2 separate regions of the Homo sapiens genome follow, and region 2 is linked to region 1. A link means that fine-mapping ties the variant in region 1 to the expression of a gene that starts in the linked region. Tissue or cell type: lung. Region 1 holds a variant in brackets; the other region holds the start of a gene. All regions are shown on one strand. Distances are from middle to middle. Region 1 overlaps FREM1 (FRAS1 related extracellular matrix 1). Region 2 holds the start of FREM1 (FRAS1 related extracellular matrix 1).

Evidence for each region.
Region 2: it holds the start of FREM1, and the variant in region 1 is fine-mapped to the expression of FREM1 in lung (TOPMed, PIP 0.93).

Annotation. Positions count from the first base shown.
Region 1 is chr9:14,881,788-14,886,182 of GRCh38, forward strand. All of the region lies in intron 1 of FREM1 (FRAS1 related extracellular matrix 1), which reads right to left. Among named protein-coding and RNA genes, the nearest start is that of FREM1, 26 kb to the right of the region's middle. The variant A/G (reference allele first, on the strand shown) is at 2,449.
Region 2 is chr9:14,907,841-14,912,235 of GRCh38, forward strand. It overlaps FREM1 (FRAS1 related extracellular matrix 1), which reads right to left and starts at 2,588. Exons shown (of 37, transcript NM_001379081.2): 1 at 2,074-2,588. RefSeq lists an enhancer at 852-1,353.

The DNA of each region.
Region 1 (4,395 bases):
GGCTATGTGATCAGATTCTGGCCAATGGAATTGAAGAAGAGCAGTCACATGGTGTCTCTGAGAAACCTCCTTTAAGAGGTAGTTACGGTGTGCCTCTTCTCCCTTTTTCTTTATGCTTCCCTCCATCTTGTTGCCAAGATGGAAGGTGCTGCCTTGCACATGAAAAAATGAGGCTATGGCATAGGTTGGTGGAGCTGTGAGCTAGAAGGACCCTGGGTCTCTGGGCCATTTGCAAAGCAGAACCACCATACCAGTCCATTCATCCAGAATTTTACACAGGAGAGAATGTAAACTTCTTTCCTATTTAACTCACTGTTATTATTTTGTGTGTGTGTGTGTGACTCATGACTGAACTTAACTATACCTTTAATAATCACTTCTTCTTCAAGTTTTTGTATTAATTTTGTTTAGTCACTAATCAGCTAAAGATTTAACTTCCTACCTAACAGCATATGGGACAATAGTTCATTCTCTAATTATATCATAGTAAACCCTTAACTGAGAGATAAGGTCAAAGTCCAAGATCCTAATGTTTATCTGCCAGGAAGAGACAAGAGAAGAGAGGAGATATCTATTCTTATGGCTCCCTGCACCACAATGCTGTTGAAAGAATAGACTTGAATTTTGAATATCTGGATTCTAATCCCGATTATTATTTTTTTAATTTTCTTCTTATCTTTTTTTTTTTTTTGAGATGGATTCTTGTTCTGTCACCCAGGCTGCAGTGCAGTAGCACAGCCTTGGCTTACTGCAACCTCCTGGGTTCAAGCAATTCTCCTGCCTCAGCCTCCCTAGCAGCTGGGATTACAGGTGCCCGCCACTACGCCTGGCTAATTTTTGTATTATTTTTAGTAGAGATGGGGTTTCACCATGTTGGCCAGGCTGGTCTCAAACTCCTGACCTCAAGTGATCTGCCCGCCTCAGCTCCCAAAGTGCTGGGATTACAGGTGTGAACCACTGCACCTGGCCATGGATTCTAATCCTGATTTTTATGAACATACTTTCCTCTTTCAAAAATGGGAGGCTGAAGCAGGAGAATCGCCTGAACCTGGGAGGCAGAGGTTGCAATGAGCTGAGATCATGCCACTGCACTCCAGCCAGGGCAGCAGAGCGAGACTCCATCTCAAAAAAAAAAAAAAAAGGAATCACCCATCTTGCCTCCAAAGTTCCCCTGTCAGACCAATAATCTATGTGGAAATATTTTCTTAATTACAAACCCCCATACAAATGTTAACATTATTATTACAAAATATATCAAAGAGACAAGAAAGTAAAGCTTTCTCAGGAAAAACAGAGTAGAAGGAATTGGGCCTGGATGAAGGTGGCAAGGTGGCAAAATTAGGTTCAATAAATGTCAAATAGAGTCTGTTTTATTTACATTCTAATTTTTTCTTTCTCATAGTCTTACAACAGAATACATATTAAAAAACTAAATTTTGATATTTCAAAAACAACCTGAAGCAACACAGTTAGGAGGGGGGAAAAGTACAAGAGTAACAATTTCCAAATTCAAAATCAAACAAAACTCATCCTTCAATCAACTGAGCCTAGACTGAAGGCTGCAGAATTAGAAGCAATAAAGATCAAAAAGGGTATGCTTTGTTTGGTTTTATTTGCATTCTAATTTTGCTCTTGTATTTTTCTCTTGGTGTTGGGAAACACCAAGTATGTGGACATTCCATGGAAAATACTGCTCTTATTTTTGGCTTCAAGAAGGTGGCATGGGAGGGGAAAGAGAAAAGAATTCAGACGAGCAGACCGAGAAAGGGCCAGAAGAAAAACAGAACAACAGCAAAGCAAAGCAAAATTCTGAAGCAAACAAGATTTCACAGTGATGATGGGTCTTTTAACACCTCAAAATGAGACGGTAATAACTGTCTTGTCTCTGACACAAAATTACTATGTCCAGTGACAGCCAACTTCTACATGAAAAACAACACTCTAATGGGAAGCCTAGCACATCTTGAGAATTTTATTTTCTTAGTCCCAGCATAGGGCTAAGTCAGAGCCTCAGAATCCATCTGTCCACAGCTTGCTCTGATTGCTAGTATGGGCACCCTCAGGGTCGGCAGAATTATTGGGGGCAGCTAGAAGTGGAAGTAGAAAGGGCACCTGGCCATATTCCCCAAGGGAGCTTGTAAACTGACTTTTAGCCACCTCGGACTTGATTCAAATCCTTGAAACAAATCCTGGCGCTTTGGGAGGCCCAGGCAGGCGGATCACCTGAGGTCAGGAGTTCGAGCCCAGCCTGACTAACACGGCGAAACCCTGCCTCTACTAAAAATACAAAAATCAGCCGGGCGTGGTGGTGGGTGCCCATATTCCCAGCTACTTGGGAGGCTGAGGCAGGAGAATCTCTTGAACTTGGGAGGCGGAGGTTGCAGTGAGCCAAGATCGCGCCACTGCACTCCAGCCTGGGCGACAGAGCGAGACTCCATCTCAAAAAAG[A/G]AAAAAGAAAAAAAGAAAAAAAACAAGAAACAAATCCTGTCTTGGCTTGCTTGTGTGGCTCAGCTGTTTCTTAACATTTCGAAATCCTCCTGACATGACTGCAAATCAGTTCTGCTCTCCCTGACCATTTTCCCACCATTGCCTTTTTTCTTTACATGGTAATCATGTATTCTAAGTACAGTATATCTGTATAAGCCAATAAACGCCAATAAAGCTGTGTGAAAATTCTTTCTGAAATGTGAAAAAACACGCTGTTTTGAATTCTTATGAAAATTCATAAAGATTTCTTCAACCAAACTTTTTGGGAAATTTTTTGAACAGAAGAAAATAATTTAGTAACATAATTGGTGGAGGGGAAATGTGAGCTAGTATTTATTTCATAATTACACATTCAGCTTAACTATATGAGCATGTATTCTTCATGTTGATATAAACATGATACTCCTGTCACTAATTTGAGATAATCTGTGCACAACAAGAAAAAAAATGGATCTCAGCTGTACAGCTCTCAATGCAATGGAAATTCTTAACGGTCAATGGTAATGACGTGCCTTGATGAAAATAATATTTACTATTCTTCCTCTCTGGAATTTTGCAATGGTAGCTACCCAACACAAGGCAAGTGCCTTCCCCCTCCTATGCCCAGCATAGTTATCAAGATATCAATAATTCATCATAGCTTTTTTTTTTTTTTTTTTTTTTTTTTTGAGACGGAGTCTCGCTCTGTCGCCCAGGCTGGAGTGCAGTGGTGCGATCTCGGCTCACTGCAAGCTCCGCCTCCCGGGTTCACGCCATTCTCCTGCCTCAGCCCCCCGAGTGGCTGGGACTACAGCTGCCCGCCACCGCGCCCGGCTAATTTTTTGTATTTTTACTAGAGATGGGGTTTCACCGTGTTAGCCAGAATGGTCTCGATCTCCTGAGCTCGTGATCCACCCGCCTCGGCCTCCCCATCATTGCTTTTTATTTTCTTTGCTTTTTGCAGAATTCATATGTGGCCCAAAACTCTTCTCATTAGTGATCTAGGTAGTTATCACCATTTGACTAAAGATGACATAAGCAATGGAACATTTTTGTCTTCCCCAGGCTTGCAGTTATTACCCCTTGACTCACACAATTATTTATTGTTCGTTTTTACTTATTTTTAATTGAAAAATAAAATTGTGTATATTTATGATGTACAACATGATTTTTGTTTGTTTTAGAGACAGGGGTTTCACCCTGTCGCCCAGGCTAGCATGCAGTGGTGCGATGATAGCTGACTGCAGCCTCCAATTCCTGGGCTCAAGCAAGCCTCAGCTCCAGCCTCCCAGGTACCTGGGACTACAGGCATGCACCACCACATCTGGCTAATTGTTTTTTAATTTTCATAGGGATGGGAGTCTCACAATGTTGCCCAGGCTGGTCTTGAACTCCTGGTCTCAAGCTATTCTTCCATCTTAGCCTCCCAAAGTTCTGGGATTACAGGTGTGAGCCACCAGGTTAATGACTTAATTTAGCTGTTTTGCAATATATACATACACTGTTGTGTCATGATGTTTTGATATACATATACAATGTGAAATAGCTAAATCAAATAACTAACATATCTATTACCTTACATATCTTCTTTTTATGAGGAGAACATTTAAAATCTACTCTCTTAGCAATTTTCAACTATACAATACAATGCTGTTAACTATAGTAGTCATGTTGTACAATACATCTCCTTCCTTTGGACTAACTGAAATTTTGTATCCTTTGATCAGCACCTCCCCAGTCCTCCCTCCTCCCCAGCCCCTGGTAACCACCTTCTACTCTCTACTTCTATGAGAACAACTTTTTCACAACTTTAGGTCTTACAAGTACCCTAAAGTCATTTAAGAAATAAACTGCTGTGTGCGGTGGCTCACGCCTGTAATCCCAGCACTTTGGGAGACCAAGGTGGGCGGATCACGAGGTCAAGAGATT
Region 2 (4,395 bases), 26 kb after region 1:
TAGGAAGATACCAAAACTCATTTAATTCAACTTATTTTACTGATGAGGAAGTGAAGCTTTGAGGGGTTAGATGGCTCTTCCAAGGCTGGTTAGCAACAACTAAGATTTGAAACACCATGAGGACAAGGACCCTGCCTGTGCATGCCATCCCCAGTGGGCATTCTGAAATCCTTAAAAACTATCACAGAGCCTGGCATGTAGCAGGTGCACCTAAATGTTTGGAATGAGGAAAGAAAAGAAAGCAAGGGGCTCTGATGGCCATGTCCAGTTTTCTTTTTAATATAAATATTAAACGCCAGAAAATGCAAGGATGGGGATGGAAGCTGAGCTCTGACTTTCACATATTGTGAAATGAGAATTTTAACACCATGGAAGAATCATTTTCTGTTTCTTCTCATCCCTGTGGGATGGTCCAATCCAAAAATCATTTTCTAGGAATGAGGCTCCTGAACCATTCCATGAAATCAAGCTCAGTTTACCCAAACTCAGCCTCGCCCAACCCCTACAGCCCAGCAGCCCCAGGAGGCTGGGAAAGAATTAAGAACAGTCCTGGGTTTAAAGTTTCCAAAACAAACATTGCTTAGCCATGCGGGGGCAGATCAGGCCATATAGCCCAACATGTGAAAGCAGGGAACATGGTAGTCAGGTCCCTTTGCCCAACTCCTTTTTTCCCTCGTGGGAATGAAAAGGCAGAGATGAAAAGGGAAGCAAGAAAAAAAAAAGATGAGGTTGGTGGAAAACTGATTAAAAAGCCCTGGTTTGCCAGCCAAGCATGCAAAACCATGTTGCACATTAAGTTATGCTCAACAACAGCTCAAACTCAGGTTTCTTATTTAGATATAAGGTTTAATATTAACCAAGTACATGACAAGAATTTCATGTCAAGGACAATGTAGAGCAATGTTTACCCAAGTGTGACCCACCTGCTTCAGAATCACCTGGGAAGATTCCTGGCACCACTCCAGGTCTAAAATCCTTTGGGCCTGGGAACTGAGAACCTGCCTTTCACCAAGCAAATGGGGGTTCTTACACACAGTCAGTTTTGAGAATGCCTGATGGAGAGAAACAGCAAAGTTTCCTAGAGCTGCACTGAAGGCACCTTTATCAAATGTAAGCAGGGGGCTGAGGCACAGCTCTTCAAGCTTTACCTAGAGTCAGGAACAGCGGGTGTCAGTTTTCCAGAGCAGAAACCTGAAGAGCATTCGAATCACTAGCTCTGTTCTGTGAAGCAGCACCACAGAGGTTAATCTCTCCAGTAAGATTCCCAGGCTATAAACACCAATTGGCTCCCAGAAATGCTCTTTTTAAGCTTTGTAATGCACACCAAGCAACAAGACTGGGTGCAATAGTTTAAAAAAAAATCAGAAACTAAAATTAAATACCTTAAAAACAATAAACAATTTCCATAAGCCAAAAATTGTTTCCTGGATTTCAAAATAAAATGAAAAGAAACTCTTTACAACAGCACCAAAGTCTCTGGACCAAATCTCAGTACTGAGCAGAGAGAGCCTAAAAATCAGTCCAAAAACTTCAGAACAAGGCCATTTCTTTGCCTCCCCAGCACTATCTCTCTTCCCCACAATGAAACAGAAATCATGTTTTTGAAAATATGTCTCCAAATATAACTAAACTTAAGCAAAGGTATCCAGACATTATCTCATCCAAATTTCTCTATGTTTGTACCATGAGGATATTATCTGTTCTGTTCATTTTTGTGTCTTTTCCCTTTGCCATTTCATTTAGCTGAGAAGAAACATTCTAATTTCAGAGGAAACAATTACACAGTTAAAAAATGGTTATTTCATTGGCAAGTGCCAGCACGGATGGACTGAGAAGAGTTAGAAATTTGTGTCACGTAATAAAAAGAATCTCAGTTTTGGCATTTGGTTTGTTAACACTGCAAGTTGCCATCTTCTGAGTTAACAGGAGAGTTAAACTTTTGCAAGCCTACTCTTGCAGATGCTTTGCATTGTTACTTGGCATTAATGATATCACACAAACAATCTCTGGGGCATTCTGCTAACAGAACATTCACAGTCACAATGAAAAGAAACACATAAAACAGATACTTACAGGTAGTGGTTTTCCTTTCCAAGACAAAAAGTTAGAAACCCTTGGAACTGGCGGGCAGGATAAGAGTCACTGACACAGCAATCTGGTTTAAAGGGCTTTGAGAGGAAGGGGGAGGAAAAAGAACCCCGGGAAGGAAGAGAGCTGAAATTCCAGTCTTTCAGGTCAGCTGTGTTTGAGATTTCTTTTTACTAAAAATCCATTAACCCACCTCACAGAAAATACAGAATTGAAGTTCACATACACACTCCACTTTCTTTGCTGGTCTTCTCCAAGGCAGCTGCTGCAGCTTTGCAAACTTCCTGAGCGCCAAGCCTCAGGACTCCCTGTGAGAAGGGCATGATAAAGATGCCTTCTACTGTTTACACAGAGCCCGACCTCCCTGGCGGACAGCCACCGCTAGCCCCGTGCCTTCTGCTGGTTGGGTCCGCAGGGACAAAACTGAGCTTTTGTTAATGAGGTCGGTTGCCTCTTCCCAGTCTCTTCCCAGCTTCCTTTCTCACTACTAGTTTTGTACTAACTGCTCCGCCACTCGCCGAGCCAGAGCAGCCTCTCCCGCCTGCAGCACACAGGCACACACACACTCAGACACAGGCACACACACATTCACAAATGGGCACACAGTCACATACAGACACACCCACTCACAGAGGTACACACACAGGCACACATACAAACACGATAGACACACAATCACCACACACAGACACATACACAGGCAAATGCCTTCACATGCATGCACACATAGTGACCCACCCCACACATGTGCATGCATTCTCACGCATGCTCCACACACACACGGGGGCACACACATACGCACAGGCCGCACATGCCCACACCCACACATGTACATACTCACACAGACTCTTCCAACACACTTTTTTTCTGCCCTTCTTTTCTTCCAACACATTCCCATCTTCAAAGGTTTTTATTTAAATTTAGATGAGAAGCCCAGCATTCAGAAGGGACAGGGCCCGTTTTAACTTTTGTCATGGCATTTAAGGGAAAAGATAGGATGGAACTAGATCCTAAGGTGCTGTTTTTAAGTACCACCTTAGTTCTTCCATTTGTAAGGCTTTTTGTGTGTCTGGCTCTTTTCGAAAACCCATAAAAATCCCATTAATCTGATCCATTTGCATATAGTGCGTGATCCCAATAATGCAGATATATCACTGGCCAAGAACTGTCCTCTCAACAGAGATTCACATAGTTAACTTGTCAGTATTCAGTGGTCTGTGAAAGTCTTAATCCTTAACAACTGTTTAATAAAATGCTTTCCTGTATTTTATTCCCACCAGGAAAAAAAAAGATAATGGCCTACCATCTGGCCTTCTAAATTAACCATAAAGAGAGAATTTGAAGTATTAACTCACTTTGGGGGAACTGTTTATATTAAGACATGTCTGGCTATCCTAAACCTTTGCCAAAAATATAGAACACTGTGAATCCAATTCAACCTAGATGTGGTTTCCCGTAACAAGGTCACAACACCATATGCCTTTCTTTGGAAGCCATAAGGAAAAGAGAGAGGAAAATGAAAAAGGAGAAGAAAATTACATGAGGAAGGAAGAAAGAAAAGAGAAAAATGTAAAGAAGAAAAGAATGCATAAGAAGGGAGAAAAAAATTATGTATTTTAAAAACATGCTTTGTGGTTACTTTAGCAATGAATGGTGCATATACACTTACTCAAAGTCATCGGAGATTTCAAATCTTCAAGAATTTCTTGATTCATTTTATTTGCTCTGAGAATAAGTAGGTGAAAGTTAAGAATCACTAAGCTCTTTATAAGTGAACAGATATTATTTACTAAACACAGTTATTATTAAATAAATATAGTGACAATGTGTGAGTCATATATTAATCCTGAAAAGGCAAGAAATAAAGCCTTAATAATGACAGTTAAGAAACACAGCATAATAGACAATTTTATTCCCCAACTGATTTTCAAAATTGCCCAGGTTGTGAATATCTTACCTGCAAAGAAATGAAGATGGTTTTAGAAGCTGTTAGTTGAGACTCGGATTCCATTTGACAAAGGAATTGTATACTATGTACAAACGGTTGCATCAACATGCTTATTCTAACATCTAAATAAGGTTTATAGATTAGTCTAGAAACTAATAAGGTTTATAGATTAGTTTATAGATAGATTATAAAGTTTATAGATAGATTAAGAGCTAAATAAGGTTTACAGATTAGTCTAGAAACAGAGATAAATGTCTTTATATCACTTCTATGGGAAAAATAACTTAAGCATGCTAAGCAAAAAATAACAAACTTAGATTGTAAAGTATTTCAAAAAGTCCGCAGGAGATATAATCTTT